Linked DNA regions of Homo sapiens. The protein of the gene in region 1 purifies or fractionates together with the protein of each later gene. This does not show direct contact. Each region holds a gene or a part of one and is shown in the gene's direction. Other genes may lie near its edges. The genes, in order: NUP133, SEC13, NUP160 and NUP98.

What was found.
Region 2: the proteins of NUP133 (region 1) and SEC13 purify together in Homo sapiens (affinity purification with mass spectrometry; 6 studies listed by BioGRID and IntAct, with this or other methods). This does not show direct contact.
Region 3: the proteins of NUP133 (region 1) and NUP160 purify together in Homo sapiens (co-immunoprecipitation; 4 studies listed by BioGRID and IntAct, with this or other methods). This does not show direct contact.
Region 4: the proteins of NUP133 (region 1) and NUP98 purify together in Homo sapiens (affinity purification with mass spectrometry; 6 studies listed by BioGRID and IntAct, with this or other methods). This does not show direct contact.

What each region holds. Positions count from the first base shown.
Region 1 is NC_000001.11:229,505,061-229,513,440, reverse strand, and holds the start of NUP133 (nuclear pore complex protein Nup133), read left to right. Parts: upstream 1-5,099; 5' UTR 5,100-5,191; coding exon 5,192-5,373; intron 5,374-7,282; coding exon 7,283-7,401; intron 7,402-8,380. UniProt on the Homo sapiens protein: Involved in poly(A)+ RNA transport. Involved in nephrogenesis.
Region 2 is NC_000003.12:10,317,688-10,325,238, reverse strand, and holds the start of SEC13 (protein SEC13 homolog), read left to right. Parts: upstream 1-4,126; 5' UTR 4,127-4,186; coding exon 4,187-4,189; intron 4,190-4,197; exon of another isoform or gene 4,198-4,368; intron 4,369-4,574; exon of another isoform or gene 4,575-4,730; intron 4,731-5,922; exon of another isoform or gene 5,923-5,959; coding exon of another isoform or gene 5,960-6,100; intron 6,101-7,144; coding exon 7,145-7,189; intron 7,190-7,551. UniProt on the Homo sapiens protein: Functions as a component of the nuclear pore complex (NPC) and the COPII coat. At the endoplasmic reticulum, SEC13 is involved in the biogenesis of COPII-coated vesicles.
Region 3 is NC_000011.10:47,810,168-47,817,613, reverse strand, and holds part of NUP160 (nuclear pore complex protein Nup160), read left to right. Parts: intron 1-1,584; coding exon 1,585-1,668; intron 1,669-1,964; coding exon 1,965-2,135; intron 2,136-4,198; coding exon 4,199-4,298; intron 4,299-4,566; coding exon 4,567-4,732; exon of another isoform or gene 4,733-4,747; intron 4,748-5,184; coding exon 5,185-5,312; intron 5,313-5,389; coding exon 5,390-5,550; intron 5,551-7,446. UniProt on the Homo sapiens protein: Functions as a component of the nuclear pore complex (NPC). Involved in poly(A)+ RNA transport.
Region 4 is NC_000011.10:3,717,388-3,724,833, reverse strand, and holds part of NUP98 (nuclear pore complex protein Nup98-Nup96 isoform 1 precursor), read left to right. Parts: intron 1-1,378; coding exon 1,379-1,677; intron 1,678-4,008; coding exon 4,009-4,122; intron 4,123-5,283; coding exon 5,284-5,422; intron 5,423-7,446. UniProt on the Homo sapiens protein: Plays a role in the nuclear pore complex (NPC) assembly and/or maintenance. NUP98 and NUP96 are involved in the bidirectional transport across the NPC. May anchor NUP153 and TPR to the NPC.

The sequences.
Region 1 (8,380 bases):
GTTTTCCATAATGTGGATGCACTATAAATCTATAGTTGGCCATCTATGTTACTTTCTACCTCCTTCACTATTATAAACAATACTGTCTTTGTTATTTGACTTTTTCACATAAATTTCTAAGGTGAAATTGCCAAGTAATTATAAGGCTTTTTAATAGAAATTGTCCTCTTAAAAGATTGTACTTTTACAGTCCCACCAGATAGATATGTAAGCAGTGCTTGTTTCCCCATAGCCTTTTCAATATGAACTGCTACTATTTTATTTTTTTTTTTCTGCCCTGTTGCCCAGGCTGGAGTGCAGTGGCCAATCTCGGCTCACTGCATCCTCTGCCTCCTGGGTTCAAGCGATTCTCCTGCCTCAGCCTCCTGCGTAGCTGGGATTACAGGCGTGCACCCACCATGCCCAGCTAATTTTTGTATTTTTTTCTTTCTTTTTTTTTTTTTGGAGACGGAGTCTCACTCTGTGGCCCAGGCTGGAGTGCAGTGGTGCAATCTCAGCTCACTGCAACCTCCGCCTCCTGGATTCAAGTGATTCTTCTGCCTCAGCCTCCCGAGTGGCTGGGACTACAGGCACGCACCACCACGCCCCGCTACTTCCTGTATTTTTAGTAGAGATGGGGTTTCACCATATTGGCCAGGCTGGTCTCGAACTCCTGACCTCGTGATCTGCCCGCCTCGGCCTCCCAAAGTGCTAGGATTACAGACGTGAGCTACTGTGCCTGGCTAATTTTTGTATTTTTAGTAGAGACAGGGTTTCACCATGTTGGTCAGGCTGGTCTTGAACTCCTGACCTTGTGATCCACCCACCTCAGTCTCCCAAAGTGCTGGGATTACGGGCGTTAGCCACTGCACCCAGCCTATTTACTTTTTGAGATGGAGTCTCACTCTGTCACTCAGGCTGGAGTACAGTGGCACAATATCAGCTCACTGCAACCTCCGCCTCCCAGGTTCAAGTGATTCTCCTGCCTCAGCCTCCCAAGTAGCTGGGACTACAGATGCGCACCACCACACATGGCTAATTTTTGTATTTTTAGTAGAGACAGGATTTCGCCATGTTGGCCAGGCTGGTCTCAAACTACTGACCTCAGGTGATCTGCCCTCATTGGCCTCCCAAAGTGCTGGGATTACAGGTGTGAGCCACCACCCCCAGCCTCTAACATTCCTTTATTAAATTCTTTTAACTACCTAGCCTGAGGGTACCATCTGTTTTCTCTATGATTTTTTTTTTGAGACAGTCTTGATATATATATATATAATTATACTTTAAGTTCTAGGGTACAGGTGCACAACGTGCAGGTTTGTTACATATGTATACATGTGCCATGTTGGTGTGCTGCACCCATTAACTCGTCATTTACGTTAGGTATATCTCCTAATGCTATCCCTCTCCCCTCCCCCCACCCCACAACAGGCCCTGGTGTGTGATGTTCCCCTTCCTGTGTCCAAATGTTCTCATTGTTCAATTCCCACCTATGAGTGAGGACACGCGGTGTTTGGTTTTTTGTCCTTGCGATAGTTTGCTGAGAATGATGGTTTCCAGTTTCATCCAAGTCCCTACAAAGGACATGAACTCATCCTTTTTTATGGCTGCATAGTATTCCATGGTGTATATGTGCCACATTTTCTTAATCCAGTCTATCATTGTTGGACATTTGGGTTGGTTCCAAGTCTTTGCTATTGTGAGTAGTGCCACAATAAACCTACGTGTGCACGTGTCTTTATAGCAGCATGATTTATATTCCTTTGGGTATATACCCAGTAATGGGATGGCTGGGTCAAATGGTATTTCTAGTTCTAGATCCCAGAGGAATCGCCACACTGACTTCCACAATGTTTGAACTAGTTTACAGTCCCACCAACAGTGTAAAAGTGTTCCCATTTCTCCACATCCTCTCCAGCACCTGCTGTTTCCTGATTTTTTAATGATCTCCATTCTAACTGGTGTGAGATGATATCTCATTGTGGTTTTGATTTGCATTTCTTGCTCTGTCACCCAGGCTGGAGGGCAGTGGCGCCATCACAGCTCACTGCAACCTCCACCTTCCTGGCTCAAGCAATTCCCCAGCCTCAGCCTCCCACGTAGCTAGGATTACAGGCACACACCACCATGCCCAGCTAATTTTTTTGTATTTTTAGTAGAGATGGGGTTTCATCATGTTAGCCAAACTGGTCTTGAACTCCTGACCTCAGGCAATCCACCTGCCTGGGCCTCCCAAAGTGCTGGAATTACAGGTGTGAGCCACCACGCCTGGCCTTCTCTAGGATCTTATTTGACAGAGCCTACAAGGCCCTTCATGGTCTCTCCTTATTTCTCCAATTCCCTTTACTTTTAGTCTTTCAGGTTGATTTGTTTGTTTAAAGTCTCTGGCTCTAATCCCAGCTACTCAGAAGGCTGAGGCTTGAGGATCACTTAAGACCCGGAGTTTGAGACCAGCCTGGGAAATATAGCAAGACCCCATTTTTTAATTGTATTTTTTTTAGAATTTAAAATAAAATTTCTTGGGGAGACAGGGTCTTGCTATGTTGCCCAGGGGCTGGTCTTGAACTACTAGCCTCAAGCCATCCTCCCACACCTTAGCCTTGCAAGGTGCCGGGATTAGAGACGTGAGCCACTATGCCTGGCCGTGAGACCCCATTTCTAAAAATATATATATAAATAAAAAATAGGCAGGTGTGGTGGTACATGCCCATGGTCCCAACTCAGAGGCTGAGGCAGGAGGATCACTGAAGCCCAGAAGGTTAAGGATGTGGTGAGCTTTGATCACGCCACTGCACTCCAGCCTGAGCAACAGAGTAAGACCCAATCTCTAGAAAAATCATAAAGTAAAATAAGAATAAATAAAGTTCCTAGAATGCACCAAGTCCTTTGCTGCTTCAGGACCTTTGGCCAAGGATCCTCTGCCTGAAACATTCTTCCTCCTATTCTCTTATGCTTCATGTCTCAGGTTAAACGTCCTTTTCTCCCAGAGACCTTTATAGACCTCCATGCAAAAATAGGTAGCCCCAGTGATTCTCTCTCATACACTTTGCTCTTTTATTTCATAGTACACATCTCAGCTTGTAGCTGGATATTTGTGTTCATTTTTTCAGTGTCTGTCTTTCTCATTGGTCTGTAATCTCCATGAGGGTAGGACCCATGGGCTTTGTTTAGTTATAAGCCTTAGCAATTATCACATAGCCTGGCACATGGTAGGTACTCACTAAATCCATAACGAATGGATGACTTTTAGTGCTGTCTGCTTACTATCCTTCAATAGCCATACATTTGGACTCCAGGCAAGTTCTTGCTCAAAGGTGGCTGACAAGTCATTCTAGCTCCTGCAAACAACAGCTTTTACATTAGGATGCTGGGGAAACCACTAACCAGTCCAACAAAGCACAAGAATAAAATTGATCCCACCAATCCTCTCAGACACAACTATTAATACTCTCTATTGCCTATTTCACACCCCTCCTTGTAAGAATGAAACAGGGAGGAAATGCACTGGGCTCTCAGAGCTATAAGACTCAACAAGCTGCCAAGTTGGGTTAGACACCCAGGTGGGAGAAGGAGTAAAGCAGCTAGCCTATGTAACCTTGGCAAGATGACTGCTCAGATGCCACTGGTGCATAGATAGATGACTGGCTTCCCAGGGGAATGTCAACAACTGACACCCACACTGTGGTCTCCCACATGTGAATACGTCAATGTTTACTTAACCATTCCCTTATTTCAACACACGTTGAATGAAAGTCTACTATGTGTCTGTTACTGTGTGCCACAAAGGTAACAAAGTCACTGCTCTTGCTGTCAAGACATTTAAAAGGAAGTACTTGACAGACAATTATGAAAACAAACTATTATGCAGGATAAAAATACAGTCTACACACAGGAGCAGAGAGGACAAAGGATAAGGGGGACCTAATCCTGTGGAAGGTTTCACTGAGAAGGCAGCACAGAACTAACTTGATGCGGAAGGTAGGCGCCTTCTGGACCAACAAGGCAGGGAGTGCATTCCAGGTGAGAGAAACATGGACATGGGCACTGGAGGGAGATTTGGGTTTTTAAGTTCTCGGAATGTGGAGTGCAAGTGGGAAGTGCTGGAAGTACAACACGGACGGAAAAGCCAACCTGACTTAGATCACATAGGACCTTGCAAAGGAGCTTAGCAAATAACCTACTGGCAATGGTCAGCCACTGAAGCATTTACAGGCCCAAGAGCAGCATTACGTTTGCCTTAATTCATTGTGTTGGCAGTGAGAAGATAGAGTGGAGGAAGACTAGACACAGGTAAGGAACCCTCTCCCCATCTCCCCTACTCCCTCCCGCTGGCAGAAGAGGCTACGCAGTGGTTGAGGGAAAGGTAAGTACCAGAACCAGGGCAGAGGCAGTGCAAATGTGTGATCTAGTACAGACACGTAGGACCTTACAACGTATACCATGATCTTAGGGTGGAGGTAGGTGTGAGGGATGACTGCAGATAGAGCTCTTCTCTTTGCCTTGGACAACTGGCCAGTTTTACCAAGCTGGAACAGAGATGGTGGTAGGAGAGGGGTCCTAAAGGAAAACATGAATGCGCTTTTCATAAGTGGATTGTGAGGAGTTCGCAGGACTTCCAGCTGAAATTGTCCCCTAGGGAGCTGAATGATAGGGGTCTGGGGGTTTTGAGCTGGATCCAGGTTAGAGACACGGATTTGTGGCGTCATCAGCGTGGATGAGACTGCGCAAAGTTGAATGGGAAAATGGCAAACCTAGAAAACAACAAATATCACAGTGCGATACCAGTGTCAGCTTTACGGCTTTTCTCCGTCCTCAGCTTGGAATGAGGAACATCTTTCATTTCACAAGAGGTTCAGGAACTACCAGTGTGAAAAGAGGCTACGTTCAAGCTGCTGGAGGGCCAGTTCCACCTAGGCGCAGTCAAGAAGGGCGCCTGGCTTTCCGGCTTCACGTCCCTGGAAGCTCGGCACTGCAGCGGTTCTAGATCTGGGGCCGCCGGCTGCCTTCCCGACCTACCTCGCTGACTGGGCACCGCCCTTAACGTCACGATCCCGCCCCCGCCAGCGCTCCGACCACAACCCGCGGGAGCCATTGCGTTTGACGTCATCATCGCGCGCCATCTCTTCCCTTAGGTGTTTAAGTTCCGCGCGCAGGCCAGGCTGCAACCTGACGGCCAGATCCCTCGCTGTCCTAGTCGCTGCTCCTTGGAGTCATGTTCCCAGCCGCCCCTTCTCCGCGGACCCCGGGTACCGGGTCCCGAAGGGGCCCGCTGGCCGGACTCGGGCCCGGCTCCACGCCCCGGACGGCTAGCAGGAAGGGTCTGCCCCTGGGGTCTGCAGTCAGCTCCCCAGTGCTCTTCTCGCCGGTCGGCCGGCGTAGCTCGCTAAGCTCGCGGTAAGTGATCTCCCTGGTTGGGTCTGGCAACCAACAGCCTCACGGGCCGCAGTGGGCCGGATAGGTTGTTGTCTTTAGAAGCCTTTGGAACCGGGGCGGCGGAATAGAATGCCACAGTATTGGAAAATAGACCTTTTCCACTGCTGCAGGTAGTATCTGCTTCGTTTTGATTATCAGTTGATCAGTTGATTCCCCACTTTGCATTTTTCATGGATACCTTTGTGCAGAAGTGAAGTACAAACTGGATTTGCATCAGTGTTTACCTACTTCCCACCTACTACCCGTGTGATCTGGTGTAAGTCACTCGTGATTTTCTTCATCTGTGAAATGGCGATAATATATCTCACCTGAGCCAGAGGAGTTATTATGAATTGCCACGATGCAGATGTAAGGTGATGGTGATAATGAGGACCTACAACCCTGAAAGATCATTGTTTAATGCCTAACATACCAACTGACATTAATATCTGATGATTGGTAATTAAAGGGTTTCTAGCTACGGAATTTAACTTTCTAGGTAAATTATAAGGAAAAGGCTTTACATAAGTGAGCTAAGAGTACTGTGATAGTTTAGTTACTAAAACTGCTCGTTTGGAGCACCAGTAAAATCATCACACACACACACCCCTCCCCACCCCCAACACACACCATGTTCATAATTAACCTAAAACTTTAGTGTTTCTGCATAGTTTTCTCTGAATTCATCTATAAAAAATGAATTTTTCCCTGCAGGAAACACAAAGTATTGTGTCTTGAAATTATGGTTAAAATTTATCTGTAAAATTTTTCAGTACTTTAAAGGAGAAGTGGTTTTGAAAGAATACACTGTATCTTTGACTTTTTTTGGCATATTTTGAAAAGTTCTTTTCAAAGTGCTGATCTTGTCAGTGTTTTCTATTCCTTTTGCGAAAAGTTGGAGAATAAAAGCATACTTTATTTACTGTGTGTTGTTTTATTTAAATCTCTTCTTGTGATCATTTGAAGAAAAACCTTTGTTATCCTCTGTCAGGAAACAAAGCCCTTAGCCCTTCTGTATGTGCATCTTCTCATTTAATTCTCGTGATAAGACATAGACTACCTTTTATTCTGGTGACTTTACAATATTCTAAATGTTAAGAGGGTGAGCAAGAAATAAAGTTTTTACTGTGATATCTGCTGTTGAGGACCATGTAACAGCTGATGCTCGTAACCTGTTCGATTTCTTGCTTGGTTGTACAGATCTGATAGTTTTTTTTTTTTTTTTTTTAAAGAGACAGGGTCTCACTCTCTGTCGCCCAGGCTACAGGCTGGTGCCACAATGCCCGGCTAATTTAAAATTTTTTTTGTAGAGACAAGGTCTTGCCACGTTCCCCAGGCTGGTCTTGAACTCCTGGTCTCAAGCAGTCTTCCCGCTTCGGCCTCCCAAAGTGCTGAGATTATAGACATGAGCCACTGCTCCGGCCAGGTCTGGTGGACTCTTAAGCACCTAAAGCTAGATGAGCTTAAATCTCATCTAAGCCAATATTTATAAAATGTATTTGACCACAACATATGGTAAAAGCTGATGTTTTATATTCTGTCTTTCAAAAATGTTGAGATCTGCAAAATGACCCGCTGTTTGAAAAAAAAAAAAAAAAAACACTGGTCTAGTTAAGCCTTATTTCACAGCTAAGGAGGCAGAATTATAAGGAGTTTAAGTGAATACAGGCATGCATTTCAATACTAGAGTCTATGGGATTGAAGCCAAGTTTTCCTAAATCCTGTTTTGTTTTTTTTTTACATGAAAAATATTACATTTAATTACATGGTAAATATGAGCCAGTGTTAATTTTTTTCAAAGAACTCCTTACTGTGAAAATATATACATAAAAAATTAGGATAATGGAGAATTTTAAGTTACAAGTAAGGTAATATAGACTCTTTTCTTTAGGGGAACACCAACACGAATGTTCCCACACCACTCCATAACTGAGTCTGTGAACTATGATGTGAAAACGTTTGGATCTTCTCTTCCTGTTAAAGTCATGGAAGCCCTAACATTGGCTGAAGGTAGGTGTCATCTTTCCATTTACCTATATTAGCAGTTTAAAATGGAGCCTAGATGTGGCATAGAGATTAAATTTATGTTTTCTCTAGTATACCTTTACGTAAATGGTGAGAGATGGGTGGCCTGTCTAGTGTTTTTTTATTTTTATTTTTTCGAGACAGAGTCTCACTCTGTCACCCAGGCTGGAGTGCAGTGGTGTGATCTCAGCTCACTGCAACCACCACCTCCCAGGTTCAAGCGAGTTTCCTGCCTCAGCCTCCCAAGTAGCTGGGATTATAGGTGTGAGCCACCACGCCCAGCTAATTTTTTGTATTTTTAGTAGAGACAGGGTTTCACCATGTTGGCCAGGCTGGTCTTGAACTCCTGACCTCAGGTGATCTGCCCTCCTTGGCCTCCCAAAGTGCTGGGATTACAGGCGTGAGCCACCACATCTGGCCACCTGTCTTAGTTTTTTTTTTTTTTTTTTTTTTTTTTTTTAACTGTAATTGAGATGTATAATACATTCGAGAAGGAGAATGAGTTCATTTGAACACAATCAAATTAAGTCTTTAATGGTTTTAGGTACTGTACAGTAGTCCCCCATTATCTTTGGGGGATATCTTCCAGGATCCCCAGTGGATGCCTGAAACCTTGTATAGTACTAAACCTTATATATACTGTGTTTTTTTAATACATACACACCTATGATAAACTTTAGTTTATAAATTAGGAACAGTAAAGATGAACAACAGTAATAATAAAGTAGAACAATTATAACAATATACCAGCAGCACTACTCTTGTACTTCGTTTGGGGTCATTAACTAAAATGAGAATATAAGCATTGCATTACTGCGACAGTTCATCTGGTAACTGAGACAGCTACTAAGTGACAAACAGCTGGATAGTCTCAGGGGTGTCCAATCTTTTGGCTTCCCTGGGCCACTTGGAAGAAGAATTGTCTTGGGTCACACATAAAATACACTTACGATAGCTGATGAGC
Region 2 (7,551 bases), on another chromosome or scaffold:
CAGTCCTCCACCCCCTGTCCCATTCCCACCCCCAAATTCTGGGCTCTGTCATTCCCTGTGCCATCATCTTCCCCCCATTGTAATTACTGTCCACTCAGGGCTGTGAAATAGACTATGTTCTGTAAAGAGGGACAAAAAGGGCATCCTGATCTTGAGAGAAGCCTGCTGTTCCTCCCATCATTTCACCTGCCCCCTAAGCCCAGGAGTTGTCATGAGAGGTCACCAGGCCCCCACTCAATCTCAGCTTGGGAACCAAAGTCACCCACCTTGGTTGTGTTGGGGTGGACCCGCCATCTGTCCCTGGTCCAGACGAGAAAGAGGAGTCTCTCCTAGGCCTGGAGCTGGGAAAGAATGTGTGGCCCAGTTGTCTGCACTTCTAATTCTCATCATGGAGAAACCTTTATTCCTATCTCCCTTTCCTGAACTGGTTTTTTGTTGTTTTTGTTTCATTTTGTTTTGGGGGGATAGTTTCTTGCTCTTTAATTTGGAGTCTCCAGTACCTTTGGGATGCAGGCAGTTCTTGCCTGGGCCTTCTCGGAACCCTCACTCCCCTAGCCCACTCTTGCGCTACCTGCAGGAGGCTGCCAACCTGGTGCATTCTGACAAGCCTCCCACCCAAATCTCTCTCCTGCCATTGTGTCCAAAATCCCACCATTAGAGGCTCTTGTAGGGAAGAGCGTTTCTTGAAGGCTTTTAGGCCTTCCAGAGCCAGGAGGGAAGTCAGACAATAGCAGGAAGTCCCCAGGCCTTTTCAAAGTTCCAAACCAAGCTCTCCTGATTTTAATGTAGAGATCATACCAACCCAGGTGGGGGAGGAGGGTCCCCAGCCCCAGGCAGCAGCCATCACCCCCTCCACTGAAAACAATATTGGAGGCTGCTTTGGGACTGCCCTTCTCAGCCCCCTAAGTCTGTTTTGTAATGCCTGTGGTGCTCTCCCTCCTGGACCTTTCCTCTCGGGGGTCACCACACTTTGCTAACTCTTGTGTGCACATATTTTATAATAGAGTAGCGAGGGAATGGTGCCGCCTCCAGCTTCCGTAAGCTGCCCGGGCTCTGGGGGGCTCTGGGACAATCGGGGCTGGGAAGTGACTGTGCTCTTATTGTACACTCTTTATTTCTCTGTATCTTTGGCTTGTGCTCTTTGTAATTAATGGGATTTGTCTGCCTTTTCAACACTATACTGAGCAATAACAATAAATGCACACGTGGAAATGCAGACACGGTACACATCACAAGGCCTTTTTCTGAAGGACAGCTGGGTCCCCGCCCTTCGTGGAGTTGAACTCAGGGGGAAACTGAGTCCCTGGGAGGGAAATGCACTTTGCCCAAGGGCCCACAGCTCAGCGGGCAGTCTCTCTCCTTCCACTAGATCACACCTTTTGAACACCCACCATTTGAGGGAGACAGGCTCACCCTGCCATGAGCCATTAACCTATGAGGAATGGTTGACCATCTCATAGAAGAAGACTGGGGAACGGGGCCTCAGGACGAAGCGGAGGAGGTTTGGGGGCAAGGGGTGGGGGGGCAAAAATCAGGGAAAGTTGGCCTGATTTGGGGTCTGGATTAACCAGAGGGAGGAGATGCGGAATACAGACACTGGATCTAGGTGGCACCCCCCTACTGGGGAGAGGGGTAAGGCAGAGGGAAGCCTGGCACCTGAGGAGTCTGGACTTCACAAACCTCTGCTGAACATTGGCAGAGAAAGAGAATATGCCCAGACCAACAAGTAATCCCTAAGGTTGGCCCAAGGGTTGAGAGTTACACACACACTCACACACTCACACAGCTCTTCTTAGGTTGAACTGATCCCCAAATCAAGCGCCATAGGCCCATCTGACTTCCATACGCAGTTTCATATCCAAGGGTTCATTTAATCCCAATATCAACCTTCAGAGGAGGTATTATTATAATTCTCACTCAAAAGAGCAGGAGACAGCATCTCAAAGAGGTGAAGAGCATGCCCACCTGGTAAGCAGGAGATCCAGCACTGATACCTAGCAGTCTTGATGCCAGCATCTGTACTCTAAACTGCCATATTACAGCGCCTTATGGGCCAAATACCTTACAGCAAATACCTTAATGAATAAGATACAGTTCTGTTGCTTGTCACAAATCCCCAATCTCTTCAACATCAGTGTCTACACAAGGAAATTCTTTTAATCACAATTATGCCTGATGCATTATATTTACATCTAATATGCCCTTGTCCTCATTTTCCACTCAAAGAAAGTGAGGCTCAGAGAAAAGTGACTTGGCCTTATCACCTAGAAAGTCAGTGGTGCAGCTATAGAGCCAAGGCCAGAGCCTGTTCCTTGAAGAACAGGAGATCTGGCAGGACGCAGCGGCTCACACCTGTAATCCCAGCACTTTGAGAGGCCGAGGAGAGTAGATCACCAGAGGTCAGGAGTTTGAGACCAGCCTGGCCAACATGGTGAAACCCCATCTCTACTAAAACTACAAAAATTAGCCAGGCATGGTGGCACATGCCTGTAATCCCAGCTACTCAGGAGGCTGAGGCAGGAGAATTGCTTGAACCCGGGAGGTAGAGGTTGCAGTGAGCCAAGATCATACCACTGGACTCCAGCCTGGGCAACAGAGCTAGAGTCCATCTCCAAAAAAAAAAAAACAAAAAAAACAACAGGAGATCCAAGAGATCCCCTGAAACCTGCCTTTGTTCCCTGCTCTAACCTAACCACCACCCCCTCACACCCCTGCAACAATTTCTCCACTAGAGGGCAATAAAAAATCTTGAAAGCTGCAGTGGGGTAGAAGAGTTGCCCAGAGGCCTGGCCCTTAATTCTAACACCCTACTCCCCTGGCCTCCCCTCCAAAGCTCCTTGACAGTTTGGGTCTATCACATTCTCTGAGCCTTAACATCTTCCTTCAAGCAGTGACCATCTCCAGCTAGGGTCCTTACTCCCAGTTTCAGCAGAGGAAACTGAAGGACTGTGACTTGCCCAAGGGGAGCCAAGGCCTCCCCCAGCTCATCTGCCTCCTTAATGTCACAAGGGGCCCAGGGCTAGACCATATGTGGCTGAGGCGGGGAGCCCAGGCTCTGTCCTCCAGTGTGGCATTCTCACTGCGCTTGTGGGGAGCCTTCAGCTGCCCTACCTTGTGAAGCCAGAGACCTGGGGTTGGGGACCCTGAGGATTAGGTCTGGGGCTCTAGCTGCAGGAGCCTGGCTGAGATCCTTCATTGCCTAGGGGGGTCTCCTTGATGGGACTTACTCAGGACCCCAGGGGATCGGTTTGGAAGGGGCAGTCCTATATAGGGGTTAGGGATGGCAGGGCCAGAGGTCCCAGCCTCTGGCGAGGGGCATTCCCTGGCCTCCTCTGCCCTGGTCCCAGTCCTTGGGTACTGAGAGGGAGACTACAACAAGGAAGCACTAGGACAGTCTACTTACTCCTAAGATGTCACTCATCCTACAACATTCATCATAAGACCAGTCGCACCCAGAGCCGTAGTGAGGCGGGTGAAGCTGCAGATAGATAGATGATAGATAGATAGATAGATAGATAGATAGATAGATAGATAGATAGATAGATTTTTTTCTTTTTTACAAGAGTGTCTCTCTGTTGCCCAGGCTGGAGTGCAATGGTGCAGTCACGGCTCACTGTAACCTCCACCTCCCGGGTTCCAGCGATTCTCCTGCCTCAGCCTGTAGCTGGGACTACAGGCGCGCGCCACTATGCCCGGCTAATTTTTGTATTTTTGGTAGAGACGGGGTTTCACCATGTTGGCCAGGCTGGTCTCGAACTCCTGACCTCAGGTGATCCACCCCCCAGCTCAGCCTCCCAAAGTTCTGGGATTACAGGCATGAGCCACCGCGCCCGGCCGATAGTTATATTAATCCTTTCTTTCATTTATGGATCTCAGGAAAAGGGCAGACTTGGTCGGGAGAGTAGACCCACCAGAGCTTCAGATTCCAAAGCCCTCCGGGTCAGGGTAACTGCGGCAACCAGAGCCCCAGCCCTCTGGTCTCGCACGTCACTGGAGGATAGGGGCTGGGCCACGGGAGGGCGGGGCGCGCCCTCTGGAAGGCGCGGAACTGCTGTGCGAGCCGAGCGCGTTGCTGCCCGGAGGCTCCTACGCCACGGCCCGTCGGGCCCGGCGCCGGAAGTGAGCTGTTCCGAGGCGCCGCCGGGAGCTGCCACGTCCGAGACCTGGAGCAGCCACCGCCGCAATCATGGTGAGTGTTGGTACTGAGGAGGCCTAGCAGGGTGAAGGCCACGGTCGCGGCCTTCACGGGTTCCTCGGCCGTCCTGAGTCCCAAATCCCAAGCTGGAGCCGTTCAGCTCCCCTCCACCGCTTAGAGATTTGGGGGGCTCTGGCCCCGTCCTTGCGGACCATTCCGAGGGGAGTCCAGAGGTGAGGCCGAGGAACCTCCCTGACTTTGCGGGGCGCGCCGCTCCTGCGTCTCCTGCCAGTCTCCCTTCCTTCTTTTCGGTCAACAATTGAAAACAAAACGAGGAACAGCAGAGGAGCTACTGTATACCGAGCCCTCAGCATTGTTCGTAATCTCCGCCTGCTAACAGCCTTGTGAAGAAGGTGCTATTCTTCTCAACACTTTACAGATGAGGACACTTGAGGTTCGGAGACGTGGAGCCTCTTGCACAGCTGCTTAAGTGGTAGTAGAGCCGAGATTTGAACCCTCCTAACCATTCCTTTCTGCCGCCTACTGCAGCTCCCAGCAGAGATGATTGAACTGTTGCTCGGGGTAGGGCCCCCAGGTAGGATGGGCACCTCGGGAAACGTAAAGATGGCCTGAACGACCCTCCGAAGGCAGGGGCTCAGGGTTTTTTAAGTCTCTGTGGCATCTGCAGTGTACATTCACTCCACACTTACTCCTTGAGTGAATGAATGACTGAAGGAGAACTAAAGAATGGAAGTATCTGGGCTGAGCCTGGAATATCTAGTACATGCATTCTTTTAGAAACATGGGTGTGTCTCAGCAGCAGGTTTGAGGGAACCTGCAGGAACCTAGAAATCAGAACACTGTGTTCTTGTTCTGCAGAGGGTTAGGTGTAAATCACTCACCTCTGGCTCTTCCACTGCAGGTTAGAGTTGAGGCTTTTATGCTCTGACATTCAGCTCATCCTAAATGAATTTTTAACTCATTATCTGATCTCAAAGAGGTGAATTATTTTGAGTGCAGGTGTTAACAGGGACCAGATAATACCAGGTCCCTGGGAAGAAGTACTCTAAGAAGTTCTCTCTCTCTCTCTCTCTCTCCCCACCCTCCCTCTCTCCCCACTCCCTCTCCCTCCCCCCTTCCTCTCCCTCTCCCTTTCTCTCTCTCCCCCTCCCTCTCTTCTCTCTCTCTCTCCCCGCTCCCTCTTCCTCCCCCCTTCCTCTCCCTCTCCCTTTCTCTCCCGCCCTTCCTCCTTCCTTCCGTCCTTTTCTCTCCCCCTCCCTCTTTCCTCCCCCCCCCCCCCCCCCGCCTTCTCTCTCTCTCTCTCTCTCTCTCTCTCTCTCTCATTCAGAAGTGTGGTTCATCAACCCTGACTGGTGGGTGAGAGTGGTTAGAATTAAATGCTGATTATTTCTAAGGTCCTTTGGTAACCTGGTTGAAACTACCTCTCAGTAAACTTTCTTCGTGAACCTACTTAACCGCAGCTTTACAGAACTCAGTGTAACAACTGCTTTACATTCTAGACAGGCAGCCTGGTGGAGTGAAGTTTTGTGGACTCAGCATTAGAAGGTTAGGGGATGGGGCTCTTTTCCCAGGTCTGCCTTGAACTAGCTCTGTGACTTTGGCAAGTGCTTTCTCTTCTCTGGGCTTCTTCATTTCCTTAGTCTGTCGCAGGTCTCTGATTGACTGTGCCCTTGGTACCCTGCCCTCCCCGCCTTCCTGTGCACTTTGTAACCTATACAGCTCGGCACATGGAGGAAACTCCTTATTGTCCTTACTTGCCTTTGCAGACTTCGGGGACCTGGTTTTTAGAGAGTCTAGAATCTGATGAGAGAACCTGTGCTTACTTGGTGTGTACCTCTTGAACTGCTTTGCAGCCATCCTCTTCCACTGTCTGCCTTTCTGAAATCACAAGTCAAACTTTATACCTACAGGGCTTGTGCTGGAAAAGATGAAATGGGGAAAATGGTAAGAAATGTCTGTTCCACACTGAAACTTCTTTTAAGTCCTCTTTTCTATCCCAAGAATTTAAGAGAAGAGTGGTTGAGCAAAGAAAAAAAATAACAGCTTTTGTTCATTTACTTATTCATTCAGCAAATAGTCGCTGAGTTCCTTCTATTTGCAAAGCACTGTGCTGGATGATTTGAGGGGATTTGAAACTGCAGATGGCTCAGACCATGGCTCCAAGGAGCTCACCTTCTAGTGGGGAGAAGAAACAGCATAAAGTGTTGTATGTGTTCCTTGCTGAAGATATGCAAGAGAGTCCAGCCATTTGAGGGTCTGAGAATCTTCAAGAAAGGTGATGGATGGCCCTTTTTGAGCTGGACCTCAAAGAATAGATAGGAGGGAGATGACCATGACACCATGTTCCAGCCCTACAAACTGTTCAACTCTGGATCCCACTACGTGACGGACCAGGGAGCAGCCTCAGGAAACACTCGAATCAAGTCTCCCAGTCTGAAGTAATAACCCCGTTATGCATAAACTGCCTGGAACATCAGAGGCTCTGTCATCCAGGAAAGGAACACCAGCTGTAGCTCCCTTGGGGTCTCTCCTCAACCTTAAGGGTAGCCAGGACTGCTTGCCGTTTCCCCACACACATCAGGCTCTCTCAGACCTCTTTGTCTCTACTCGTGTATTCCCTCTGCTTGGCTGCTTGGACTGGTATTTTCCCCTGTGCCACCTGCAAATTCCTACCCATCATCTAGGGCTCAATTCGTGTCTACCACCCCAGCCCCTCAGGCTCCTACAGGACACACAAACCACCATTAAATAATTTATCTTGCGACACTAGCATTATTCGCGAGCTTCTCAAGGGCAAAAAGTTCCTCTTATTTGTGTCTGTATATCCAGTTCCTAGCACAGTGCTTGGCAGAAAGAAGGTACTTAGAATGAATGCTTACTGAATGAATGAATGAATGAGTGAGTGAACAAACAAATGCAGTCAAGAACTTGAGATGGTTGTATTCTAACTGCCATGAGTTAATTTACCAGTGATATCTTTGGTTCTAGGTGTCAGTAATTAACACTGTGGATACCTCCCATGAGGACATGATTGTAAGTATTAATATCACCCTCCCTGGAGGGGTGTGGACATGGGCATTTTTGTGGGAGGGAAGCAATTTGGGGTTTTCATTACCCCTTTCTGTTGATCATTCATGGATCCAGGGTGGCTTTGCAGTGGTTGCCTATCAGCCTGTAATCTCGGGGTATGGCAGGCTCCCTAGCAGTGCCCTCTGAGTTGTCAGGACTGTGGCAGTCTAATCACTCTCTGCTGGGAGGAACCTGGGAATAATTTGTAGTTCTAGGCTGTCAGTCTTCCAGCCAATACAATAACCTGCTCTCGGATGAAGGCTGAGTGGGTACGGAGGCTTGACAATAGTCTTCCCACCTGTCTTCCTCCTGCTGTCACTTCTTAG
Region 3 (7,446 bases), on another chromosome or scaffold:
CAGCACTTCGGGAGGCTGAGGCAGATGGATCACGGGGTCAAGAGATCGAGACCATCCTGGCCAACATGGTGAAACCCCGTCTCTACTAAAAATACAAAAATTAGCCGGGCGTGGTGGCACACGCCTATAGTCCCAGCTACTCGGGAGGCTGAGGCAGAAGAATTAATCTCTTGAACCCGGGAGGCAGAGGTTGCAGTGAGCCAAGATTGCGCCACTGCACTCCAAACTGGCGGCAGAGTGAGACTCTGTCTCAAAAAAAAAAAAAAAAAAAGTTTTTGGCTTCAAATTCATTGTATAAGAGAAGCCCAGTGCTTTACAAAAGGATTCTTTGGCCAACGGTAGTGACTCACACCTGTAATCCCAAAATTTTGGGAGGCTGAAGAGGGAAGATCACTTGAGCCCAGGAGTTTGAGAGCAGCCTGGGCAACAGAGGGAGACCCCATCTCTAAAAAAAATAATAATAATAGAAAAATAGCCAGGTGTGGTGGCATGCACCTGTGGTCCCAGCTACTCAGGAGCCCTAGGTTGGAGGACTGCTTTAGCCCAGGAGGTAAAGGGTATGGTGAGCCTTGATCATGCCACTGCATTCCAGCCTGGGAAACAGAGTGACACCCTATCTTAAAAAAAAAAAAAAAAACTGAAAGGATTTTTTAAGGTTACAAAGGCTTCTGGCTGGGTGCAGTGGCTCACACCTGTAATCTCAGCACTTTGGGAGGCCAAGGGGGTGGATTGCTTGAGCTCAGGAGTTCAAGACCAGCCTGGGTAACATGGCAAGATTCCCATCTCTATTAAAACAACAACAAAAAGTTACATAGACTTTTTTTTTTTTTTTCCCTTTGAGGCAGGGTCTCGCTCTGTTGCCCAGGCTGGAGTGCGGTGGCACGATCTTGGCTCACTGCAACCTCTGCCTCCTGGGTTCAAGTGATTCTCCTGCCTCAGCCTCCCAAGTAGCTGGGACTACAGACGCATGCCACCACACCCGGCTAATTTTTGTAGTTTTTAGTAGAGACAAGGTTTTGCCATATTGGCCAAGCTTGTCTCGAACTCCTGGCCTCAAATGATCCACCCGCCTCAGCCTCCCAAAGTGCTGGGATTATAGGCATGAGCCACCACACCCAGCTTGCATAGGCTTCTTTAAATTACTACTTAGCTTCATGGATGGATTTAAAATACAATAACTCATATAATTGAAAATTATATTAGAATATTTTAGACTGACCTCCCACATAAAACAGAAATGCCTTCTGAGGCTTTTGTGATAGTTATTCAGCCTTTAATTGTCTCTACCTCCACTGACCACTTTGTCACTACCTCTTGTGGGAGTTATTATTCCCAAACTGTGTCATTGAAAAGGAAGCCTCTCTTCTATAAATCAACCCTTCAAGTATTTTAAGAATCTTTCCAGGTCACCTTTCTCCAGACTAAATACACCCAGTTTCTTAACTTTCTCTTGGGTGATGTGTGTTCCAGGTATGCCAAATCTCTATTATATAGTTTTATATTGCCTCTATGTCTTCTAAACTGAAACGTTTTCCATTCAGTTTTGGCTATTATATAGAAGTCTAAAATGTCTTTTAATGTTAGATTTTCTGCCGAGGAACTGAGAGGAATTTGGATCTTTCCTGGAGTGAACTGAAGAAAGAAGTTACTTTAGCTGTTGAAAATGAGGTGAGGCTTGGGTAGAGAAAGAATAAGAATTCCTTCCATCTTGATATAGGGCAGATTGGTACTGACCGAGGAATTACTGGAATTCTTCACTTGACCTTGTTTGTTGGAACATATAAATGTTTAAACCTTTTAACTAGAGAATCAGATACACATTTGCATAGTCTATGGCCTTTAATACGTAAGGAATATTCATTTGGCTGTAGCTTAGTATAATGATATTGGACAATTATGTTTTTTGTGGACAAAGATCCTGAATGGCATCAAAAGTTTAATTTCTTTCATTTCTTCTTTGCCAGCTTCAAGGAAGTGTAACAGAGTATGAATTCTCCCAGGAGGAGTTTCGAAATTTACAACAAGAATTCTGGTGCAAGTTCTATGCCTGTTGTCTTCAGTATCAAGAAGCCCTCTCTCACCCTCTTGCCCTACATTTGAATCCACACACAAACATGGTGTGCCTGCTGAAAAAAGTAAGTGAGCTAAAGCATAGAGAAGACCTTCTTGAGACAGTTCAGTGGCTGTTATAACAAAATGCCTTCAGAAAACAAAAAGTTCAGTGGCTCTTGCCGAATGTTAGTCTGGTGAATGTTGCGGTTAGCATTTAGGACTTTGCATTTGTATTTTTTCCCCTAAAATTGTGATTCATTCATTTAAATAGTTTTCTGTGTTATTCTCTATACTTTTTTTGTATTTTATTGTATTTATTTCTTTTTCTTTTTTTCTCTTTTTTTGAGTTGGAGTCTTGCTCTGTCACCCAGGCTGGAGTGCAGTGGTGTGATCTCAGCTCACTGCAACCTCCGCCTCTGGGATTCAAGCAATTCTCCTGAGTACCTGGGACTACAGGTGTACACCATCACACCCGGCTAATTTTTGTATTTTTAGTAGAGGTGGGGTTTCATCATATTGGTCAGGTGGGTCTTGAACTCCTGTCCTTAGGTGATTCACCCGCCTCAGCCTCCCAAAGTGTTGGGATTACAGGCGTGGGCCACCACACCCGGCCTATTTACTTTTTATATTGAAGTAATTTCCAACTTAAGGTAAGAGTTACAAGAATAGCACAAAGAATTCCTGTATACCCTTCATCTGGATTCATCATTTGTTAACTTCCATATGCTTTTCTTCTTTCTCTAAACAGTTTTTCCTGAACTACTGAGAAGTTAGTTGTAGATATCATGCTCCTTTATCCTTAAATATCCTTAAATATTTCAGCATGTATCTAAGAACACAGATATTAAATAACCACAGCCCAATTTAAAAATCAGGTTATTTGATATTGACATAATATTATACAGCTTATATTCAAATTTTGCCAAATATAACATATATATATATATAGTTTATATTCAGATTTTGCCAATTGTGCCCATAATTTTTTTTCCTGATCCAGGATCCAATCTTTTTTTTTTTTTTGAGACAGTCTTGCTCTGTCGCCCAGGCTAGAGTCCAGTGGTGCAATCTCGGCTCACTGCAACCTCCGCCTACTGAGTTCAAGCGATTCTCCTGCCTATCCTCCAGAGTAGCTGGGATTATAGGCACGCGCCACCACACCTGGCTAGTTTTGTATTTTTAATAGAGACGGAGTTTCGCCATGTTGTGACCAGGCTGGTCTCAAATTCCTGGGCTCAGGTGATCCGCCCACCTTGGCCTCCCAAAGTCCAGGATCCAATCTAATATATGTATTTAGTTATTGTGTCTCTTTAGCTTAACCTCAAACTGTTATCAGCGTTTCTTTGTCTTTCATGAGAATGATGTTATTTGAAGACTATGCTTGTTTCTTTTTTTTGTTTGTTTGTTTGTTTGTTTGTTTGAGGCAGGGTCTTGCTGTGTCACCCAGGCTGCAGTACAGTGGCACTCTTTTTTTTTTTTTTTTTTTTTTTTGAGACAGAGTCTCGCTCTGTCACCCAGGCTGGAGTGCAGTGGCACGATCTCAACACACTGCAACCTCTGCCTCCTGGGTTTATGCCATTCTCCTGCCTCAGCCTCACCAGTAGCTGGGACTACAGGCGCCCGCCACCACACCTGGCTAATTTTTTGTATTTTTAGTAGAGACGGGGTTTCACCGTGTTAGCCAGGATGGTCTCGATCCCCTGACCTCGTGATCCACCCACTTCAGCCTCCCAAAGTGCTGGGATTACAGGCGTGAGCCACTGCGCCCGGCCCAGTGGCACTCTTAAGGCTCACTGCAGCTTCAACCTCCCAGGCTCAGGTGATCCTCCCACCCCAGCCTCCCTAGCAGCTAGAATTAAAGCTGTGTGCCACCACACTTGGCTAATTTTTTTTTTTTAGAGATGGGGTTTCATCATGATGCCCAGGCTGGTCTTGAACTCCTTGGCTCAAGTGATCCTCCCACCTCAGCCTCCCAAACTGCTGGGATCACAGATGTGAGCCACTGTGCCCAGCCAAGACTTACACCTATTATTTTATAGAGTGTATTGCAACTTGGGTTTGCCTCATGATAAGATGCACATCTCAATTATTTTATACCTTTAAAATTTTACTGACAAAAATGTAACTGGAAAATTTGTATTTCCAGGGGTACCTGTCTTTCCTTATTCCCTCATCCTTAGTGGATCATTTGTATCTCCTGCCTTATGAGAACCTTTTGACAGAAGATGAGACAACCATATCTGATGGTAATAGTAATTGTTATGTCCATATTTAATCCCCTTCCTATATAAACCCTATGCTTCGTTTCACATGGATACAAAAAATATCGATTGCCACACCTGTCTTGGTCACTTTACCACACCACAAATATTTTAATGAACACTTAAGAGACCAAAGCATCTCTGAGACCTCAGATAGATTTCTTGTCATTTAATTATTAACATTTTAATGTAATATCAATCAATAGATTGTCATTGGCTTAAGACATAAATGTTAACTTTCTCTTATTTGTAGATGTGGACATCGCTCGGGATGTCATATGTCTTATAAAATGCCTCCGGCTGATTGAAGAGTCAGTAACTGTGGATATGTCAGTTATAATGGAAATGAGTTGTTATAACCTACAGTCTCCGGAAAAGGCTGCAGAGCAGATTCTGGAAGATATGATCACTATTGATGTGTAAGGAGAATTAGGGTAAAGTGCATTTCCTAATGGAAATTCAGCATTTTTAGCGCCAAAGTTGGAATTTTAATGTATGTTCCAGAGCGTACAGAATAGTAGCTTAAAGTCAAACTGATGCGCCATGATTCTAAGTACATATTTCTACTTTTAACAGAAAATTTAACACGACTTCAAGTCTAGAAATAGACTTATAAAATATGCTTTAACAATTAACCGAGCTAAAAATTCTAAAAAGCAAAAGTGTTCTTCTCATGTTTGTTTTGTGTGTTGTTTATGAAAAACTGAGAGGAAATTTGCTATGCATAGGGACTGTATCTTATATGCCAGAGTGATTATCTTCATTCCTTTATCTGGTTCTCTTGTTTCATAATGTATTTAGCTTATAGGACATATAGAACTTGCCTTACGTATTCTCGGTAGTAATAAGAGTTTTGTAATTGTCCTTATAGAGAAAATGTGATGGAGGATATTTGTAGTAAACTGCAAGAGATTAGGAACCCAATCCATGCAATTGGACTACTTATACGGGAAATGGATTATGAAACAGAAGTGGAAATGGAAAAGGGATTCAATCCAGGTAAATGACAGAACAACAAATGTGCCTCTTTGATTAAAACAATGATGCATTCAACTCCATTTTTCTTCTTTTTACAGCTCAGCCTTTGAATATTCGAATGAATCTTACCCAGCTCTATGGTAGTAACACAGCAGGGTATATTGTGTGCAGAGGGGTGCATAAAATCGCCAGTACTCGTTTCCTGATCTGCAGAGATCTTTTGATCTTACAGCAGCTGTTAATGAGGCTTGGAGATGCTGTAAGTACTGCTTGAGGGAAAACTTGTAAAATCTAAAACCTGTTATAGGCCTACAAGCACTTAGGAGCAAAATGTCAGCCCTACTAGCACAGATACTTTTGTCTTGGTTCACTGCTTTATTCTCCCAAGCTTGGCCTTATGAGATGCTCTATAAATATTTTTGAATTAAGAATGAATAAGCATTGTAATCCTTGTGAGAGTATAGATTAAGAGCATATATGGAGGGGACGGTGGGGAGGGAGAACATCAGAAAGAATAGCTAATGGATCCTGGGCCTAATACTTAGGTGTTGGGTTGATCTGTGCAGCAAACCATCATGGCACACGTTTACCTACGTAACAAACCTGCACATCCTGCCCATGTACCCTGGAACTTAACAGTAGATTTTAAAAAACATACATGAAGCAGATTGCTTTACTCTTAACCTTTGTATGTGTAGTAGTGGAAAATTTTCCCAAGTTGGCTCTCCCAAAATGTAGTATTATTAGTAACTATGAATGTGGTAAGCATACCCTTTAGTATGGAGGAAGAAAAAGAAAACTCTTTTTTTTTCCTGTCTCTCTCTCTTTTTTTTTTTTTCTTGAGACAATCTTGCTCTGTTGCCCAGGCTGGAGTGTGGTGGCCTTATCTCAGCTCAAGCAATTCTCCTGCCTCAGCCTCCTGAGTAGCTGGGATTACAGGTGCGTGCCACCGTGTCCGGCTAATTTTTGTATTTTTAGTAGAGACAGGGTTTCACCATGTTGACCAGGCTGATCTTAAACTCCTGACATCAGGTGATCCACCTACCTCGGCCTCCCAAAGTGCTGGGATTACAGGCATGAGCCACCTTGCCCAACCTAAGAACTCTCTACAGTGCAAGGCTTACCCTAAACACAGTTTTGAGATGCAGGTTTATCTTTGTGGTCCTCCTAACTCTATTCTGTGCTTTCTTTTTCATTCTGTTCTTCTTAGACCACCAGACTCTTGTTGCTAATATATAGTCCTAATCACCCACCCTACTGAATGTCCCATGCTAAGAAATTATTTTTCTCCCCACAGTCAGACATCCCATTTTTTTCTAAGTCAGTAATCTCATTTGAGCCTGTCAAAGAAGGAATCTAATTAAACCAATTCATATTAATGTGTAAATAGCCAAAAGTCCTTTGGGGCTCCCATTTTAATTCTGACTTAAAATGTATAAATGTACTTATACATTTTAAGTCAGAATGTATTAACTCAGGCTGGGCACAGTGGCTCACACCTGTAATCCCAGCACTTTGCGAGGCTGAGGTGGGCAGATCACTTGAGGCCAGGAGTTCGAGACCAGCCTGGCCAACATGGCCAAACTCCATGTCTATTAAAACAAAAAAGTTAGCGGGGTCTGGTGGCACACTCCTGTAATCCCAGCCATTCAGGAGGCTAAGGCATGAGAATTACTTGAACCCAGGAGGCAGAGTTTGCAGTGAGGCAAGATTGCACCACTGCACTCCAGCGTGTGTGACAGAGCGAGATTCTGTCTCCAAAAAAAAAAAAAAAGAAATTATAAACCCAGATACATCGCTAATGGTAGAATTTCAAGCAAGAGTAAGAAAAAGGCCAGATGTGGTGGCTCATACCTATAGTCCCAGCACTTTGGGAGGCCAAGGTGGCCTGGTTGCTTGAGCCTAGAAGTTTGAGACCAGTCTGGGCAAACCCTCATCTCTACAAAAAAATACAAAAATTAGCCGGGCATGGTGCAGCAAGCCTGTAGTCCTTGCTACTTGGGAGGCTGAGATGGGAGAATTACCTGAGCCTGGGAGGTTGAGGCTGCAGTGAGCTGTGATTGCGCCATTGCACTTCTGCCTGCATGACAGAGTGAGACCCTATCTCAAAAAAAAGAAAAAAAAAATTGGGAAGATAATTTGTTTAAGATCACCA
Region 4 (7,446 bases), on another chromosome or scaffold:
TAGCCCTTTAAGGGATATTTTGTCTGTGATGATTTTCTTTCTTTTTTTTTTTTGAGACAGAGTCTCACTCTGTCGCCCAGGCTGGAGTGCAGTGGCATGAGCCAAGATCGCCTCCCATGCTCAAGCGATTCTCCTGCCTCACCCTCCCATGTAGCTGGGAATACAGGCACCCGCCACCATGCCTGATTAATTTTTGTATTTTTAGTAGAGACGGCGTTTCACCTTGTTAGCCAAGGATGGTCTCGAGCTCCTGACCTCAAGTGATCTGCCCGCCTTGGCCTCCTAAAACGTTGGTATTACATGCGTGAGCCACCGTGCCCAGCCTTGTACAGTGATTCTTAATAGTTAGGTATATATTCTTTCATATCAGAAATTTATTTATTTATTTTTTTTTTTTGAGATGGAGTTTTGCTCTTATTACCCAGGCTGGAGTGCAGTGGCACGATCTCGGCCCACTGTATCCTCTGATGTGAATTGTTCAAGCAATTCTCCTGCCTCAGCCTCCTGAGTAGCTGGGATTACAGGCATGCACCTCCACGCCCAGCTAATTTTTTTTGTATTTTTAGTAGAAACAGGGTTTCGCCATGTTGGTCAAGCTGGTCTTGAACTCCTGACCTCAAGCGATCCACCCGCCTCGGCCTCACAAAGTGCTGGGATTACAAGCGTTATCCACCACACCCAGCCGAAATTTCTTTCTTTATAAATATATTTTATTATATAAAGATTATGCACGAATGATATATTCTGTAACCTGCTTATTTCCATTTATTTTATTAGAAATGCCTTTCCATTATCTGTATGAATATATTTGTCTTTTCTTTTTTAATGATTGCATAAGTCATTATTGTGAATGTAAGATAACTTGACCAGTTCCTTGTTAGTGGACATTTAGATTATCCGGTATTCCTGTACTCAAAACAGTGCTTCAGTAAAAATCCTTATATACTGGCACAAGTTCTCAGGGCCTCCTGAGGGCTGTATCACGAAAAAGAAAAAAAAAAAAAGAAACCCTTTGTATAGACACCTTTGTACTCCTGTTTTTTTTTTCTTTTGGATAAAATTCTAGTGTTTTTTATTATTATTATTATTTATAAAGCATTTTTTAACATTTTGTTGATTGTAATCTTAAAAATCTAACATTTTTTTCAGTTTTTAATCTTAAAATTAACCAATTATTTGATTCCATATAGGAGAGTATACAATAGAGATAGTAATTATCTGTTTCACAGTACTGCTGTAGTAAGTATTAAGTGAATTTTTAATACATGGAACTATCCAGAACAGTGCCAGGCACTTAGTAAAGGCTCGGTATTAGTTAGCTATTATCATTGTTATTACTACTACAAGAGGCTAAGGTATTATTTCTTTTCCTTTGCAGATTTAGTTTCCTAAGCAAACCTGTTGATGAGAATCACCAGCAGGATGGAGATGAAGATTCCCTTGTTTCACATTTTTATACTAACCCTATTGCCAAACCTATTCCTCAAACCCCAGAAAGTGCTGGAAATAAACACAGCAACAGCAACAGTGTGGATGATACCATTGTTGCATTAAACATGCGTGCTGCTTTGCGAAATGGGCTGGAAGGAAGCAGTGAAGAAACGTCTTTTCATGATGAGTCACTTCAGGATGACCGAGAAGAAATAGAAAATAATTCTTACCATATGCACCCAGCAGGTCAGGTTCAGATTGGTGCATGTTTAATCTCTTACCAGTCATTCGAGATGACTTGCTTGTTGCAGATATTCAACATATGGAAGTCAGCTGTTTGGCATTTTAAGTATTATTTTATGTGATCCCACATAGGAGAGCTTAATATTTAAACAGTTTTATGCTTTAGTTGATTCAGAGTTCACATACTCTTTGGACCTTAGAGTATGAAAATTGATACATCTTTAATTATCCTGGTGTAGTCTAAAGAACCCAAATTTTATAGCCAAAGAGACTATCCTGATATTTTCCCTGGCTTTGTAAACTCGGATAGATTGCTTATTGTTTTTTGTTTGTTTGTTTGTTTTTTCTTGAGACAGTGTCGCTCTGTCGCCCAGGCTGGAGTGCAGTGTCGCAGTCTTGGCTCACTGCAACCTCAACCTCCAGGGATCAGGACCTCTCATCTCAGCCACCCGAGTAGCTGGCACTACAGGCACATGATACCACACCCCGTTAAGTTTTGCATCTTTTGTTTTGCCATGTTTCCTGGGCTGGTCTCAAAATCCTGGGCTCAAGTGATCCTCCTATCTTGGCCTCCCAAAGTGCTAGGATTACAGGCATGAGCCACCATGCCCAGCCCATTTTGGGTGTTTTGTGGTATTCTTGAAGTGTCTCCAAAATTTATATTTAGTTTTCTTATTGCCATTATATATATATATATATTTGGTTACTTAGTATCATAAGGAAAGAAGTTTATACTTTGACAGTAAGAATCCCAGGTAGCCTGGGTGTGGTGGCTCAGCACTTTGGCAGGCTTAGGTGGGAGGATCGTTTGAACCCAGAAGTTTGAAATCAGTCTGGGCAACATAGCAAGACCTGATATCTACAATAAACTTAAAAGTAATTAGCCAGGTGTGGTGGCATGTACCTGTAGTTGCAGCTACTACGGAAGCTGAGGTGGGAGGATCACTTGAACCCAGGATTCAAGGTTGCAGTGAGCTATGATTATGCCACTGAACTCCAGCCTGGGTTGACAGACCAAGATCCTGTCTCCTAAAAAAAAAAAAAAAAAAAAAAAGAATTCCAGGTGCTTAATCTGTATTTGTGTATGTATCTCTACATGAATTTATTATGCTACTATATATCTTTTTAATAGGAAGTTTTATATTCTAGTTTTTTCATTTACCTTGTTTGCTGCCACCCAATTTAGAGTTCCCTTCCCAAGAAGCAAGTATACAAGTGGGTGTTGCTGGAGGCTGGAGTTTGGTCTGATGTTGGCCTGAAATACTTTTCTCTCAGAGAGCAAGTTAGCCTTATATCTGACTACAAGTAGGACAAGGAGTGAATAGAGCAAGCAAGCACACCAGCGTTCCACTACTTTCCTTGAGTTTTTCAGCGCTCTGCTTTTTTTATTTTGGTATTTTTTTTTCTATTTTAATTTATTCTTTCTTTCTTCTTTTCTTCCTTCCTCCCTCCCTCCCTTCCTTCCGAGTTTCACTCTTGGTTGCCCAGGCTGGAGTGCAGTGGTGTGATCTCAGCTCACTGCATCCTCTGCCTCCCAGGTTCAAGCGATTCTCCTTCCTCAACCTCCCGAGTAGCTGGGATTACAAGCACCCGCCACCATGCCCAGCTAATTTTTGTATTTTTGGTAGATAATGGATTTTTGCCATGTTAGCCAGGCTTGTCTTGGACTCCTGGCCTCAAGTGATTTACTCACCCCGGCCTCCCAAAGTCCTTGGATTACAGGCATGAGCCACCTTGCCTGGCTGGATTTTTCATCTTTCTTTTAGCTCTTTATTTGGGAGTGTAAATTTGAAAAATAAAAGAGGTTTATGCAAAACAGGCAATGAAACAAGAAGAATTGGGTTTGGAGTTTTATATCTACTTCTATTGTTAAATTACAGTATAAGCCAACACAAGTTATTTCCACTGTAGGTTTTGGTATCCTTGTGTGTAAAATAAAATAAAAAGCTGATTAAGCTTTTCTCAGAGTATTTTATGAGATACCTTTTATAGTCCGGGATGTTAATGGGTGTCCTTTGAAAATAATGTTCTGTGGTTAAATCTGGAAAAACACGAGGTTAAGCAGAGTTTAATAGGCTATTTACTGTAAGTTTTAGACTCTTTGATGTATCATATGTATGTTCTTCAAACCTATTTGACCATGAAGCTTTTCACACACACACACACACACACACACACACACACTCACACACCCCTTCTCCTAGGAATCATGTTTGGTAGAAAAGTAGTTTGGAAAATTCTTCATTCTGATATATTTTCTCTTTATATGATGATTTAGTTGCTGATTATTTCAGGTTATTTTTTTTTCTGTTTTTTTTTTTTTTTTTGTCACAGGTATTATTCTCACTAAGGTTGGTTACTATACTATTCCATCTATGGATGACCTTGCTAAAATTACCAATGAAAAAGGAGAGTGCATTGTCTCTGATTTCACTATTGGTCGGAAAGGTAAGTGTGAGTTTAGCACTTAGTGATTAAGCCAGAGAGTTGCACCTTATTTTTGTAATTAGGGGAAGCTTTTGATAGCTGAATCTTCATTTTCCTACATTTGGGCCCACCTTGGCCTGAATCTTAAATACTTTGATTGATAAGTAACAAAACAAGAAAGACTGGAACCATGTAAATTTTTTTATTTTTATTTATTTTATTTTTTCTGTTGAGATGGGGTCTTGCTACATTGCCTGGCAGATCTCAACTCCTGGGGTCAAGCATTTCTCCTGCCTCAGCCTCCTGAGAAGCACAGAACCATATAATATTCTTTGGGCTTAGGTATACCTGTTTGGTGCTAGTAACTATTTGGGTCATTTTAATTTTCTGTAATTAAAGAAAATACTGGAAATACCAAGAACTTCTGAGAAAATTGAATAATAGGCAAGAGATGTATAACACTTAGCATGAACTTCATGTTATTATTACTGATAATTTTCTTGTGGGAAATGCCACTGTGCTATATTGTATTAAAAAGAGCTCAGGCATTTTAACCCATATGCCAGGCCAAGTGCGAAGGTTTGTTTATATAGCGTCATTATAGATAAATGGGAAGAGATTTAAGAAGGTTGTTTTGAGGCTAATGGGAGTTTTATAAAAATGCAGATGTTAGGCCTGTCGCAGTGACTCACACCTGTAATTCTAGCGCTTTGGGAGGCTGAGGTGAGAGGATCACTTGAGCTCAGGAGTTCTAGACCAGCCTGGGCAACATAGTGAGACCTCACCTTTACCAAAAGTAAAGAAAATGAGCCAGGCCTGATGATATGTGCTTGTAGTCTCAGCTACTTGGGAGGGTGAGGTGGGAGGATTGTTTCAGTTTAGGAGGTTCAGGCTGCAGTGAGACAGGACCACTGCACTTCAGTCTGGTCAACAGAACAAGACCTTGCCAAAAAAAAAAAGAAAAGAAAAGAAAAGAAAAATGCAGATTTTAAATCAGATAACAGTGTAATTGAAGTTACTCTCCCTAAGTCCCCATTCTTACCAGTCTAGGAATTGCTGAATTATTTAAAATACTAATACTTAAAACTGCTTTCTCCTTGTGATTGTTTAATCACTATAGTTGTAAAGTAGGTATTTGCCTTCATACAGAATGAATTTTTAACTATTTGCTCTGATTTATAGGTTATGGTTCAATCTATTTTGAAGGAGATGTGAATTTGACAAATCTAAATTTGGATGATATTGTGCATATCCGGAGGAAAGAAGTAGTTGTCTACTTAGATGATAACCAAAAACCACCTGTGGGTGAAGGGCTAAATAGGTAAGAGTTTATGTACATACAGAAAATTATCAGCTAAATCACAATTTTTTTTTCTGTAAACATAAATGTGTTTAGATGTATGCTTCTGTAGCTTGCTTTCCTTACTATAGAGTACATTTATTGTCTCTACTTTGATTTAAAAGTATAAATGGCAAAGAAATGCTATACTGTGATTTTGAACTCCTTTTCCCTGATTTTATTTTTTAATTCATTTTTTTACATTCCTTGGATTCGATTCTATTCTATTTTATTTCATTTCATTTCATTTTACTATTATTATTTTTTTTTTTTGAGATGGAGTTTTGCTCTTGTTGCCCAGGCTGGAGCGCAGTGGAATGATGTCAGTTCACTGCAACCTCCGACTCCCGGGTTCAAGCGATTCTCCTGCCTCAGCCTCCCAAGTAGCTGGGATTGTAGGCGCCCGCCACCATGCCTGGCTAATTTTTGTATTTTTAGTAGAGACAGAGTTTCACCATGTTGGCCAGGCTGGTCTTGAGCTCCTGATTTCAAGTGATCCTCCCACCTCAGCCTCCCAAAGTGCTGGGATTACAGGTGTGAGCCACGCTGCCCAGCCTCCCTGATTTTATTGGGTCCAACTGCTAATTTCAAAAACTCTTTTTAATAGTATTTTGCTTTATTCCTGTTTCTGCTGTGGCTATACTTAACTCTCTATTTTAGTGTGAGATCCTAGCTTCTAATATCTTAGTCAAGTGAAAGGGCTGTAGTGAAAATTATTTATCTTCATAACCTACCAACCCTGAATCAGGAAGAAATAGAAAATCTGAGCAGATCAATCGATCCTTTCCTTTCCTTTCCCCTTCCGCTTCTTTTCTTTTCCCTTTCTCTTCTTTCTTTCTTTTCTTTCTTTCTTCTTTTGAGACAGAGTTTCACTCCTTTGCCCAAGCTGGAGTGCAGTGGTATAGTCTCAGCTTACTGCAACCTCTGCCCCCTGGGTTCAAGCGATTCTCCTGCCTCAGCCTCCAGAGTAGCTGGGATTATAGGTGCCCGCCACCATGCTCAGCTAATTTTTGTATTTTTAGTAGAGACAGGGTTTTGCCATGTTGACCAGGCTGGTCTTGAACTCCTGACCTCAGGTGATCTGCCCACTTCGCCCTCCCAAAGTGCTGGGATTACAAGCATGAGCCACTGTGCCGGGCCAATAATTAGTAAAGAGATTGACTCAGTAATCACAAACTTGTCAAAAAAGAAAAACCTAGAATCAGATGGCCTCATTGGTGAATTCTACTAAGCGTTTAAAGAAATAACACCAGTCCTACTCAGACTCTTCCAAAAAATTGAAGAGAAGGGAATACTTTCACACTCATTCTATGAGGCAAGCGTTACCTTATTCAGTAACCAAAGACACTGCAAGGAAAGAAAACTACAGACCACTTGATGAGTATATTGATGAAAAAGTCATCAACAGAGCCCTAGGAAGCAGAATTTAACAGCGTATTGAAAGGATTACACATCATGGCCAAAAGATTTATTCTGGAATGCATGGATGGCTTAACATACAAAAGTCAGTGAAACATACCACTTTAACAAGATAAAGGAATATACCACATCATCATCATCATCATAATACAGAAAAAGTATTTACCAAAATCCAACACTCTTTCATAATAAAGGCACTCAAATACAGAAGGCTTTTCCTGTGAGACAAGGCAACACAAGGATGCCTGCTTTTGCCACTTTTCCCAAATATACTACTGCAAGTCCTGGTCAGAGCAATTAGGCAAGAAAAATAAAAGTTAATACAGTTTTGAAAAGTAGTAAAATTATCTCTGTTCTTTGATGACATCTTGTGTAGAAATCCCTAAAGATGCCACACAAAAAAACTTACTAGTTATAAACAAATTCAACAAAGTTACAGGATACAGAATCAACATGGAAAAATCAGTTGCACTGCTATACACTAACAACAAAAATTAAGAAAACATTTCATATATATAGTAGCATCAAAAAGAATAAAATATACACAAATAAACTTAACCAGGGAGGTAAATGACTTGTTTATACAA